Homo sapiens: one gene and its partners. The protein of the gene in region 3 purifies or fractionates together with the protein of the main gene of each other region. This does not show direct contact. Each region holds a gene or a part of one and is shown on either strand. Other genes may lie near its edges.

Evidence for each region.
Region 1: the proteins of PLA2G4A (region 3) and RSF1 fractionate together in Homo sapiens (co-fractionation; one large-scale study listed by BioGRID). This does not show direct contact.
Region 2: the proteins of PLA2G4A (region 3) and DNAJC17 purify together in Homo sapiens (affinity purification with mass spectrometry; one large-scale study listed by BioGRID and IntAct). This does not show direct contact.

Annotation. Positions count from the first base shown.
Region 1 is NC_000011.10:77,674,104-77,677,758, forward strand, and holds part of RSF1 (remodeling and spacing factor 1), read right to left. Parts: intron 2,897-3,655; coding exon 2,689-2,896; intron 1,154-2,688; coding exon 933-1,153; intron 1-932. UniProt on the Homo sapiens protein: Regulatory subunit of the ATP-dependent RSF-1 and RSF-5 ISWI chromatin-remodeling complexes, which form ordered nucleosome arrays on chromatin and facilitate access to DNA during DNA-templated processes such as DNA replication, transcription, and repair.
Region 2 is NC_000015.10:40,797,415-40,801,069, reverse strand, and holds part of DNAJC17 (dnaJ homolog subfamily C member 17), read left to right. Parts: intron 1-3,655. UniProt on the Homo sapiens protein: May negatively affect PAX8-induced thyroglobulin/TG transcription.
Region 3 is NC_000001.11:186,985,938-186,989,625, reverse strand, and holds the end of PLA2G4A (cytosolic phospholipase A2), read right to left. Parts: intron 1,250-3,688; coding exon 1,118-1,249; 3' UTR 645-1,117; downstream 1-644. UniProt on the Homo sapiens protein: Has primarily calcium-dependent phospholipase and lysophospholipase activities, with a major role in membrane lipid remodeling and biosynthesis of lipid mediators of the inflammatory response.

The DNA of each region.
Region 1 (3,655 bases), on a different chromosome or scaffold from region 3:
GGTGATGTAAGAAAATGTCCTTGTCCTTAGGAAATAATCACTGATAAAGGGGCATGATATTATCATCACTTATTTAGATGGTTTAGGAAAAAAGATAAATAAAACCAAAAAAAACCCACAAGGATGGCCAGAGTCTGATACTCATATCTATGGTTCTTCTCTAATAAGATGACACCTATCAATTTGCCAATTACATAAAGCATTCATTTCTTGTAGCGGTTGAGCCTCTATTTACTCACTTAATAGGGATAAGCATACTCTATAACAACATCAACTACTGTTAATCTGTAAAAACTACTCAACACTGACTGTGGTCTAAATGAGAGTTAACTTGTATTCTTCTCTCTCCAACAGCTGGGCATCTGAGGGAAATGTTCACAGTTTATTGAGAATGATTTCCAAGAAACCCTATGAAGATGAAGGTTTAGGAGTGGAAACATTTGACAACCAAGGAGTCATCACAATCCTACTAGGCATCTGATATGAAGTTAACGTATCAATCAGTATGTATTTTCTCAGATGTGCTTTCTATGAGAAAAATTTAGTCAGAAATAAGTCTTAAGAACAGAATTTTAAGAACTCTTAACTCCAGAAGTCATAAGAATTTGTTGAGCTGGCCAGCGTGCTGGCTCACGCCTGTAATCCCAGCACTTTGGGAGGCTGAGGTGGGCAGATCACCTGAGGTCGGGAGTTTGAGACCAGCCTGGCCAACATGGAGAAACTCCCTCTCTACTAAAAATACAAAATTAGCCAGGCATGGTGGCACATGCCTGTAATCCCAGCTACTTGGGAGGCTGAGGTAGGAGAATCGCTTGAACCCGGGACACAGAGGTTGCAGTGAGCCGAGATGGTGCCATTGCACTCCAGCATGAGCAACAAGAAAAACAAAAAATAATTTATTGAGCTACCATATGGTTACAGATTATTTTTACCAGAGTCTCTACTATTCTCCTCAGATTCCTCCTCTTCATCATCATCGGAATATTTTTTCTTTGGGGTCTTTCTTCGCAAACGCCTGCTCTGCCTCATTGGCCGAGAGGGGTGTCGCCTCAGTCTACGGCTACAAAAGTCAGTGTCACTGTCATCATTAGATGGCGGATCTTCTTCACTTTCATCTGGGTTTTCATCAGACACAACAAACTCATCTTGAGATCTGTCCAAGAGAAATCAGATAAAATACAATGGTATTTAGAAGAGTGAACCCATTTTTAAGAGTTCTGAGTTCAAATTCTGGTGAGCCCAGTGAATCATTAAGTATAGTGCAACATATCTGGATAATTGTATCAAATGCCCTATTTATAAAATGGGGAAAATGTTTTGCCACCTATCCTCTTAGGAGGGGTTGTAAAGATGAATTAATGTTGATTTCTGTACTGCTTTGACCTCTTGGGATGTCCCCCATGTTAAATTCGACATATTCAAAAGTGAATTCATTATTTCCCAATCTACTTCTCTCTTCTGTTCCCTGGCCTGGTATTTGGCACCATCACTCATCCGGTAACTCCAACCAGAAACGTGGTATTTATCCTAACTTTCCCCTTTTCATTTCTCATATCCAATAAATTAATAATTTCTCTAGAGTCTACCTCTTAAAAGATAATCTCTCAAACCTGATCTCTTCTGTTTTCAGCTTTTCATACTCACCTTAACTACAAAAGCAACTCCACAAATAGTTTCTCTAATATCTGGTCTCATTTCCCCTCAATCTATCCTCCAAATGAATGCCAGGATGAATCTTTCTGAAGCATAAATCTCATATTAATTTAGTGTTTAAAACCCTTCACTGGTTTTGTATAATTTTCAGGATAAAGTCAAAACACTTATGCATGACAAATAAAACACTCCCTAATCTGGCTCTTTTTATCACTTGACCACATCTCCAGTAGGGCACTCTCTACTTCATCCCCTTATTCCTGCTATCCAGAGCCAACAGGAGTTTCCCAAACATTCTATGACATTTTACGGCTTGCTGTCTTGGACATGTGACTTCTATGCTTAGAATACCTTTTTCTTATCCTGCTTTTAGTCTCATACTTGTTGATTCCAAATACTCATTCTTCAAATTTCAGATCAAGCTTTACTTCTACTTTAAGGTTTACTCTTTGGATTAAGCCAACTTTCCTCTGTAGCCTAATTTATCTTTCCCTGTATTTTAGTAGCAGTTATGCAGAATGACTTTTTTTTTTTTTTGTGGTTTATATACTTGTTTCCTCTTCTAATAATCTGAAAGGAGAAACTCTGCAGTATTGTTTCAATTCCAACTCTGCAAAGAAGCCTTTCTTGATCTTCTATACTGGATTACCAGTCCCAAGTCCAACTTCTATGAGTCATGAGAGGATAATATCTTATTTATTTTTCACATAGGACTGGAAACCCCTCATGGACCTGGCAGAAGGTGGCACAGAGGTACAGAGAAAGCTCTCAACAAATGAAAGTTTAATTGTAGTTAGTAAAATTTAAATACAATTTTGAATGTTAAACAACCATAAATCTATTTTCTGTTCTAAACTTTAAAAATGGGCCAAAATTAGTATTCTTGAATCTGCTTTAAATATCCTGAAAATAAACAGAGGTTGTCTATGTACATGAAGAAGAAAACCCTCATCACAGCATGGGCAAGCCTCTCTGCTAGCCCAGTCCTGTTCCTGCTGGTATCTAGGGATCGGGGCCTAGTAGGAGACCACACACCCATCACTGATCTTGAATTCATCCTCGCTCTCTTCTTCATCCAGGTTGCTATCACTGTCCAGATCATTTAATCGCCGGCGTTTCTTCCTTCGAGCAGCAGCTGCCCTCTGGGGTCGTTTATTTTCTTTTCTTTCTTCATCCAAAATAGTAGAGATGTCTTTCCCACGATGACCTGTGATGGTGGAGATATCTTTTCCTCGGCCAACTCCTGAATTTGGGGGAGGGAAGTTCGGGGAGAGAAAAATATGTGTTTATTAAAAGCTTCCCTTTAATTTCTAGAGACAGTCCTTATTCATGCTTAGCAGCTCTTCATTTCTTTATTTTCTTCCAACAAATATGCAGTTTTCTTATGACTTCAGCTGACAGAGGTCTCAGAGTTTTAGCATTCGTTTACCCTACTGAAGAGAAGTTTACTATGTAGGGAACCTCGTTTTTTAAATTTTTATATAATTCACACACCGCAATATTCACCCTCTTAAAGTGTACAATTCAGACATTTTTAGTATAGTCACAAAGTTGTGCAACCATCACCACTACCTAACTCCAGAACATTTTCATCACCCAAAAAAGAAACCTCATACCTATGAGCAGTCACTCAAGAATCTCTTCTTGAAAGCTGTCTTTTGGACAAGGCTTTAGAAAGAGGCCAATAGAGTTTTTAAAAACAGTGTTTGCAGGACAGAAAAAGTGAGAATTCAGCAGCAAAAATGTAAATAAAACATACATCTCTGGAAAAGCCTTAAACAATCTACTTATTAATCTTTTCCAGAGTTTTCATAATAACTAAGTAGAAACCAGAATGTTCCATATTGGAGCATTGGCTAATAGTGCTTTAATTAAATTACCTTCAAGTTCTTCTATTTTAATGCCACTTACTAAAGACTATGAAATTAAGAAACCAATTTTTAATAGGTTAACTTAAAAATTTTTGGTTTAAATTATTTTGGTTCTGATTATCCATAATTTT
Region 2 (3,655 bases), on a different chromosome or scaffold from region 3:
AGGGCAGTCACTGCGTCTCTCAGGACCTGACTTTCCCCAAATGTAAAATGAAGGAGTAGGGCAAACTACAGTTTGAGGGGCCAAATGGCCCATGACCTTTTTTTTTTTTTTTTTGAGACGGAGTCTCGCTGTCGCCCAGGCTGGAGCATGGTGGCGCAATCTCGGCTCACTATAACCTCTGCCTCCCAGGTTCAAGCAATTCTCTGCTTCAGTCTCCGGAGTAGCCGAGATTACAGGCTCCTGCCACCACGCCTGGCTAATTTTTATATTTTTAGTGGAGATGTGGTTTCACTCTCTTGGCCTGGCTGGTCTTGAACTCCTGACCAAAGTGCTGGGATTACAGGCGTGAGCCACCGTGCCCAGCTGACCTTTTTTTTTTTTAATGGCTTATGTGCTAAGAATGGGTTTTACATGTTTAAATGATTGTAGAAAAAAAAACACAGCTCAACAACCAAAAAAACAACTCGGTTAAAAAATGGGCAAGCCAGGAGTTTGAAGTTACAGTGAGCTCTGATCACGCCACCATGCTCCAGCCTGGGTGACAGAGTGAAACTCTGTCTGTAAAAAAATTAAAAAAAAAAAAAGAAAAAGACAATCTCAATAGACATTTCCCCAAAGATGATGTACAAATGGTCAATAAACACATGAAAAGATGCTCAACTTCACTAGTCATTAGGTAAATGCAGATCAAAACCATGTTGAGGCCAGGTGCGGTGGCACACGCCTGTAATCCCAGCACTTTGGGAGGCCGAGGCAGGTGGATCACCTGAGGTCAGTAGTTCAAGACCAGCCTGCCCAACATGGTGAAACCCCGTCTCTACTAAAAATACAAAAATTAGCTGGGCGTAGTGGCAGTTGCCTGTAGTCTCATGTACTCGAGGAGGCAGGAGAATTGCTGGAACCCAGGAGGCGGAGGTTGCAGTGAGCCGAAATCGTGCCACTGCACTCCAGGCTGGGTGATGGAGCAAGACTCCATCTCAAAAAACAAACAAACAAAAACATGTTGTGATACCACTTCACACCCATTAAGATAGCTATTATGAAGACAAAAACAACAACAACAACAAAAAAAAAACCCTGGTGTGATGGCTCATGGAGAGGCTAATGTGGGAGGATTGCTTGAGCCCAGGAGTTCCAGGCTACAGTGCGCTATGATTGTGCCACTGCACTCCAGCCTGGATGACAAAGCGAGACCTTGTCTCTAAAAATAAAAAGTAAAAAGAGAGAGAGAGAAATAAATGTTGGTCAGGATGCAGAGAAATTGGAGCCCTGTGCATTGTTGGTGGTGCAGATAATGTTAAGATGGTATGGTGAGTCCTCAAAAAATTAAACATGGAATTACCATATGACCCAACAATTACCATATGATTCATATGGTAATTAAATATAGAAGTAATATGATCCAGCAACAGAAACAAACACAAAACAACAAAGGAGAATATACAACAAAGACTATATGTAGCTCCCTAAAATTTTTACTCTCAACCGGGGGCCTTTACAGAAAAATCTGCTCATCCCTCTTCAAGTTAGGGACAAGTTCAACTCTGCCTTTCTGTACACAGAACTAGCCTTTCTGCAAATGTTCTTCCCTCATATCACAACAAACCTAGCAGGCCAAAAGTGAGCTAAACACCACCTTTCATGGGGATTTAACAATCAGCCATTCTCCTTGTTCCCCATCCAGCCCTAGAGGATACAGGCAGGGCATGGTGTGGTTTTTTTTTTTGTGGGAAAGCCTTAAGTTGAGGACCTGGGTTTCGGGTGGAAGTGCTCCTAGGGAGAGGATCAGTCTGCTAGAGCCTGAAGCAGCGAGCACCAAATTCTTTTTTTTTTTTTTTTTTTTTTGAGATGGAGTCTCGCTCTGTCGCTCAGGCTGGAGTGCAGTGGCACGATCTCGGCTCACTGCAAGCTCTGCCTCCCGGGTTCACACCATTCTCCTGCCTCAGTCTCCCGAGTAGCTGGGACTACAGGCGCCCGCCACCACACCACCATGGCTAATTTTTTTTGTATTTTTAGTAGACACGGGGTTTCACCGTGTTAGCCAGGATGGTCTCTATCTCCTCACCTCGTGATCCGCCCGCCTCAGCCTCCCAAAGTGCTGGGATTACAGGCGTGAGCCACCGCGCCCAGCCAGCAAGCGCCAAATTCTTACACACACACTCACAAGGCGGGGCACCACGGCTGCCAGAATGAAGGATTAAGTCGTGAGTTAACGCTGTTTGCAAACCTTCAAGAGAGATTCCAAAGTAATCTCAGGAATTACCTGAGTGACTGCAGTGACCGTCTAATCCTTTTCCTATTTCTGTTCTTGATCCTTTTCACACAGCAGCCAGAGTGAGCCTTTATAATGTAAATCAGATTTTGTCACCTCTGGTCACAACTCCCAGTGGCTTCTCTCAGTCTTAGAATGAAATCTGAAGTCCTTCCCCTGGCCCACGCGGCCCTTACTGCCTGTCCTGCACGTTCCCTGCCACCACTCTCCCCTTTGCTGACTGTGCTCCAGCCACATCAGTCCTCCTGATATTTCCTACAACATTGTGATAAATAATGTATTTAACGCAAAATTTACTGCTTACCATTTTAATCCTTTTTGATTAAAGGATTCACTGGCATTAAGTACATTTACATTGTTGTGCAGCCATCACCACCATCCATCTCTACAACTTTTCCATCATTTCAATCTGAAACTCTGTACTTAACAAAGAGTGACTCCCTGTTCCCTCCTCCCCCCAGCTCCTGTGAACCACTCTTCTACTTTCTTTCTCTATATGAATTTGACTATTCTATGAACCTCATATAAATGGAATCATGCAATATTTGTCCTTTTGTGTCAGGCTTATTTCGCTTAATTAACATCATGCTTTCAAGGTTCAGCCATGTTGTAGCATGTGTCAGAGTTTCCTTTCTTTTTAAGGTTGAATAATATTCCATTTTATGTATATACCACATTTTGTTTATCCATTCATCTGTTGATGAATATTTTGGTTGTTTCCAGCTTTTGACTATTGTGAGTAATGCTAGTATGAATGTGGGTTAGAAATTTGTTTGAGCCAGGTGTGGTGGCTCATACCTGTAATCCCAGCACTTTGGGAGGCCAAGGGTGGTGGATTGCCTGAAGTCAGGAGTTCAAGACCAGCCTTGCCAACATGATGAAACCCTGTCTCTACTAAAAATAGAAAAACTAGCCAGGCGTGGTGGTGGGTGCCTGTAATCCCACCTACCCAGGGGGGTGAGGCGGGAGAATTGCTTGAACCCAGGAGGCGGAGGTTGCAGTGAGCCGAGATTGTGCTACTGCCCTCCAGCCTGGGCGATAGAGCAAGACTCCATCTCAAAAAAAAAAAAAAAAAAAAAAGAGATCGGCCAGGTGCGGTGGCTTACACCTGTAATCCCAGCACTTTGGGAGGCTGAGGCAGGTGCATCACCCAAGGTCAGGAGTTCAAGACCAGCTTGGCCAACATAGTGAAATCCCGGCTCTACTAAAATACAAAAATTAGCTGGGCATGGTGGCGGGTGCCTGTAATCCCAGCTGCTAGGGAGGCTGAGGCAGGAGAATCGCTTGAACCCAGAGGCGGAGGTTGCAGTGAGCCAAGATTGTGCCATTGCACTCCAGCCTGGGCAATAAGAGCGAAACTCCATCTCAAAAAAAAAAAAAGAA
Region 3 (3,688 bases):
CTTACCACTTTTTTGGATTATTCTCTGAGGTCAACTACACTGGTTGTTGGATAAGCAGTCCAGGATAATATTAGCCAAGGGAAATGTTACATTAGAAGTGGTTACACATATATTTTCTACTTAATGAATAAACATATACCATTTTCTGAAAAAATTATATATTCATCTTTCAGAAAAAAAACCTATGATTTAAAATTAAAAGTTTCAGCCAGGCGCGGTGGCTCACACCTGTAATCCCAGCGCTTTGGGAGGCTGGGGCGGGCAGATCAAGAGGTCAGGAGTTTGAGACCAGCCTGGCCAACATAGTGAAACCCCGTCTGTACTAAAAATCTAAAAATTGGCTGGGTGTGGTGGCGGGCACCTGTAGTCCCAGCTACTCGGGAGGCTGAGGCAGGGGAATCGCTTGAACCTGGGAGGCGGAGCTTGTGGTGAGCCAAGATCACACCACTGCACTCCAGCCTAGGTGACAGAGTGAGACTCTGTCTCACAAAAAAATTAATTAATTAATTAAATTAAATTAAAAGTTTCACACTTGAGTTTAGGATGAACAACTTTTGCGTTTGAAAGCAGTGAATATGAGAATCTTTCATAGCAATAGTCCAATATCTCATTAAAAATTAACAAAAAACTCAGTTATCTCATGCTTATTTTTATATTGATGTATTTATTTCATGTATGTATATATATGCATATATAAATAAAAATAGTGTTGTCTCATGGTATGAATAAATCTAGTCAGTGAATAACATTCATACATAATGCGAGGTCTTATTGAGATTGAACTGTTAAATATTTTAAAAGAAAAAAAATTTTTAAAAAGAACACACATAAGAAAGTTGGTGAGAAATGTTTAAAAATACAGTATATATCCCTACATTTGTATCAGGAAGTTCATACTGACTGAAAATGTAGCTAAGTATATCCTTACATAATCAACATCATTTGTCAACCTAACTTATAATAGTATTATTCTCATGCAGCTAAGTAACTGCAACTTTGAGTATCAGCCAGTCTCTCATGATCAGTACGACTATCTGTACTGTACTTTTAAATCCAGTTGTCATGGGATTGCAAACTGCCTCAGCATCAGAAACTGCTGCCATTTCCAGTACATGAACTATGCTTTGGGTTTACTTAGAAACTCCTTGTTGAAAAATCTTCTTGCCTCAACATTACTAAGGGAAACAGAGCAACGAGATGGATTCTGTCTTCTATATTCAATGCTTTCAACCATGGCTTCTTTTATCACCTGCAAATAGAGACAGAAGTTGTATAATTAGCGCTGCTATGAACTCATTTATATATTTTTTATTAAAATAAAAATCAAATGAATCTTTTTATTAGAGTATTCCTTTTGACATATATGAATAGAAATCTACGAGTCATGCATACACATTTAAATTCAACATCCCACCACTGCACTCTTGTTAAGCTTATATTCAGCTACTGTTCCTTCCCTCACCAGGGAAAGAAGGATTCTGGAAATGTTCTAGATTTTATGCTGATAAATTTGGGAATAAAGTGGTAGCATGGTAAAATTATGTTGGTTCTGCTCTTTGCCAAAAGGGGGATAACAGGGAAGAAACAAGTAATTACTAAATCTATAATTTATGTTCTTTATAATTAGTGGGCAAGTAGAAAAAGACCACCAGGAAAGTAAAAGCTTTTCCTAGTGGAGGAAGAAGGCATTGCTGGAGAATTGCCTTCCTTCCTCAACTGAAACAATACAGTTATAAAACATGAGCCTCCTCTATCTAGGAAACATCATGCTCTGTGATTTCATTGGTGAAAATGAATTACTACTTTTTATTCAGCATACATATATCCAATATATATTCTTTACATATACCCATGTTAATGGTAACCAGAAGAAAACACAGGAAACTACAACCTCTAAGAACTGCTATTTCAACTGTCATACACTGGTTTTGGTATGAAGTTAACCTAGTTAGAATTTGGGGAAAGAAGAGAACATTCAGAATTTGGTAGATGCAGTTATTGAAGAGCAGTGGAAATGGGCTTTGGAAGAAGGCCTGAATAGTAAATCTTGTCTCTGCTTCTGCTTCAGAACCTTGTTAAAATCAGGAAGACTCCATTTCCCAGGACAGTCCTCATTTCATCTCGATGACCAATGAGATAGATGTTTCTGGGCATCAGGAAACCGAGGCAAGTCACAGAGTTATTCCACAATTCCTTTTATTCTCTACCTCAGGGATTGTTAAGCAACATTAAGGTACAGTCCACGGGCTTTTCAGCCCCTTGCCACAGGTAGGAATACTTGGCAAGTCTGATCAGTTTAGGACGCTATGGCCTCCTCTCACTCACAACTGCTGTGGCCCACTTGGCCTTGGAGATGCATGCTCAGAGGGATTCTCCCATTACCACGTGCAAGCTCACTGGGCAAGCATGGCTCATTGCCTGAAGGAGATCATGTTTGCACCACTTAAACATGTGAGATCTAAATGGTGCAAACATGCAATTATTTTTCTGTGACTTTATGTCCCAGACACCCAACAAGCAAGGCTCTCTATTCTCTAATAGTAACTTTAAAAACGCAGTCAGATTTTGGAAAAAGGGAGCTATCACAGGAATGTGGTTCTTTTATATGCCTTATTTTAAAACGTAATATATGTAATTATCTTCTCGGGAAATGGGCTCAAACGTGAATGAGTCCGTTAAGGTAAAGCTGATATTTGCTGATCCCACTTTTCTTAAGAATAGGGAAACATAATTCTGTGATGACAAAAGATGCTTCAGATCTATGAAGGAGACTTGGACCAAAGGCTACCAGGCACAAACACTTCTTGGCTGTGTGAGATGGAGGGCAATTAGTGTCAATACTTGAGCCCATTTCTTCTTCTTTAAAATGGAAATAATGTACTAATTTGGGGTTTTGTGGGGATTGGAGATCATTTCTATAAAGTGCTTGGCACAATACCTGGTACATAAACATTCTACAACAGCTGTTACGCTTGTTATTTTTAAACTGACAATATGTGATGAAAATTGGGAACTCTAAATTAGAAGTGAAGCTATAAAGTTTATAAGAAATAAACACACCAGGTGTGTAGCCAAGAATGAGCTTATTATATTGTGTAAGTCAGCAAATCGTTTCTGCTATTCAAAGTATCCTACTACATCTTCTTTTAAAAATCTCCCTGCCTTTCTAGAGATCTATATCAGCAAATTTATCAATTGGTTTCTCCTTCTCACAGAAATCCATGAAACATCAACCCTCATTGCATAAAAGTGTCCAAATAAAATAAAAACCAACTATTTGCTTTCTAAACACCTAAAAAGCTTTAAAATAAAAAAGACCATACAAAAAATTAAACTGACAATGATTGCTGCTATCAATTCCCTCATAATGAATTCTTGAGCATAAAAAAAATCAGCAATATCAACATCAGGAACTAGTGGATTTATCGTAATTGGACCTCAGCTGGTGTTCCTAGTGAGCAAGCCATTCTGATAAAGGAAAATGAACACTTCCAACTCTGAAAACCCCAAGTTAGAATGTGCAAGTTGATCCACTAGGTGGCATATTAACACCATGAAACCATTAACCAGGTTTTTCACATTACTGCGGAAAATACCCTGTTCTTGGGAGTTACAGTTCTGTGATAGAAAAAATCAAGCCCAGTATTAGATCAGTTACTAAATTCAAACCTTTTGGCATCCTACATGA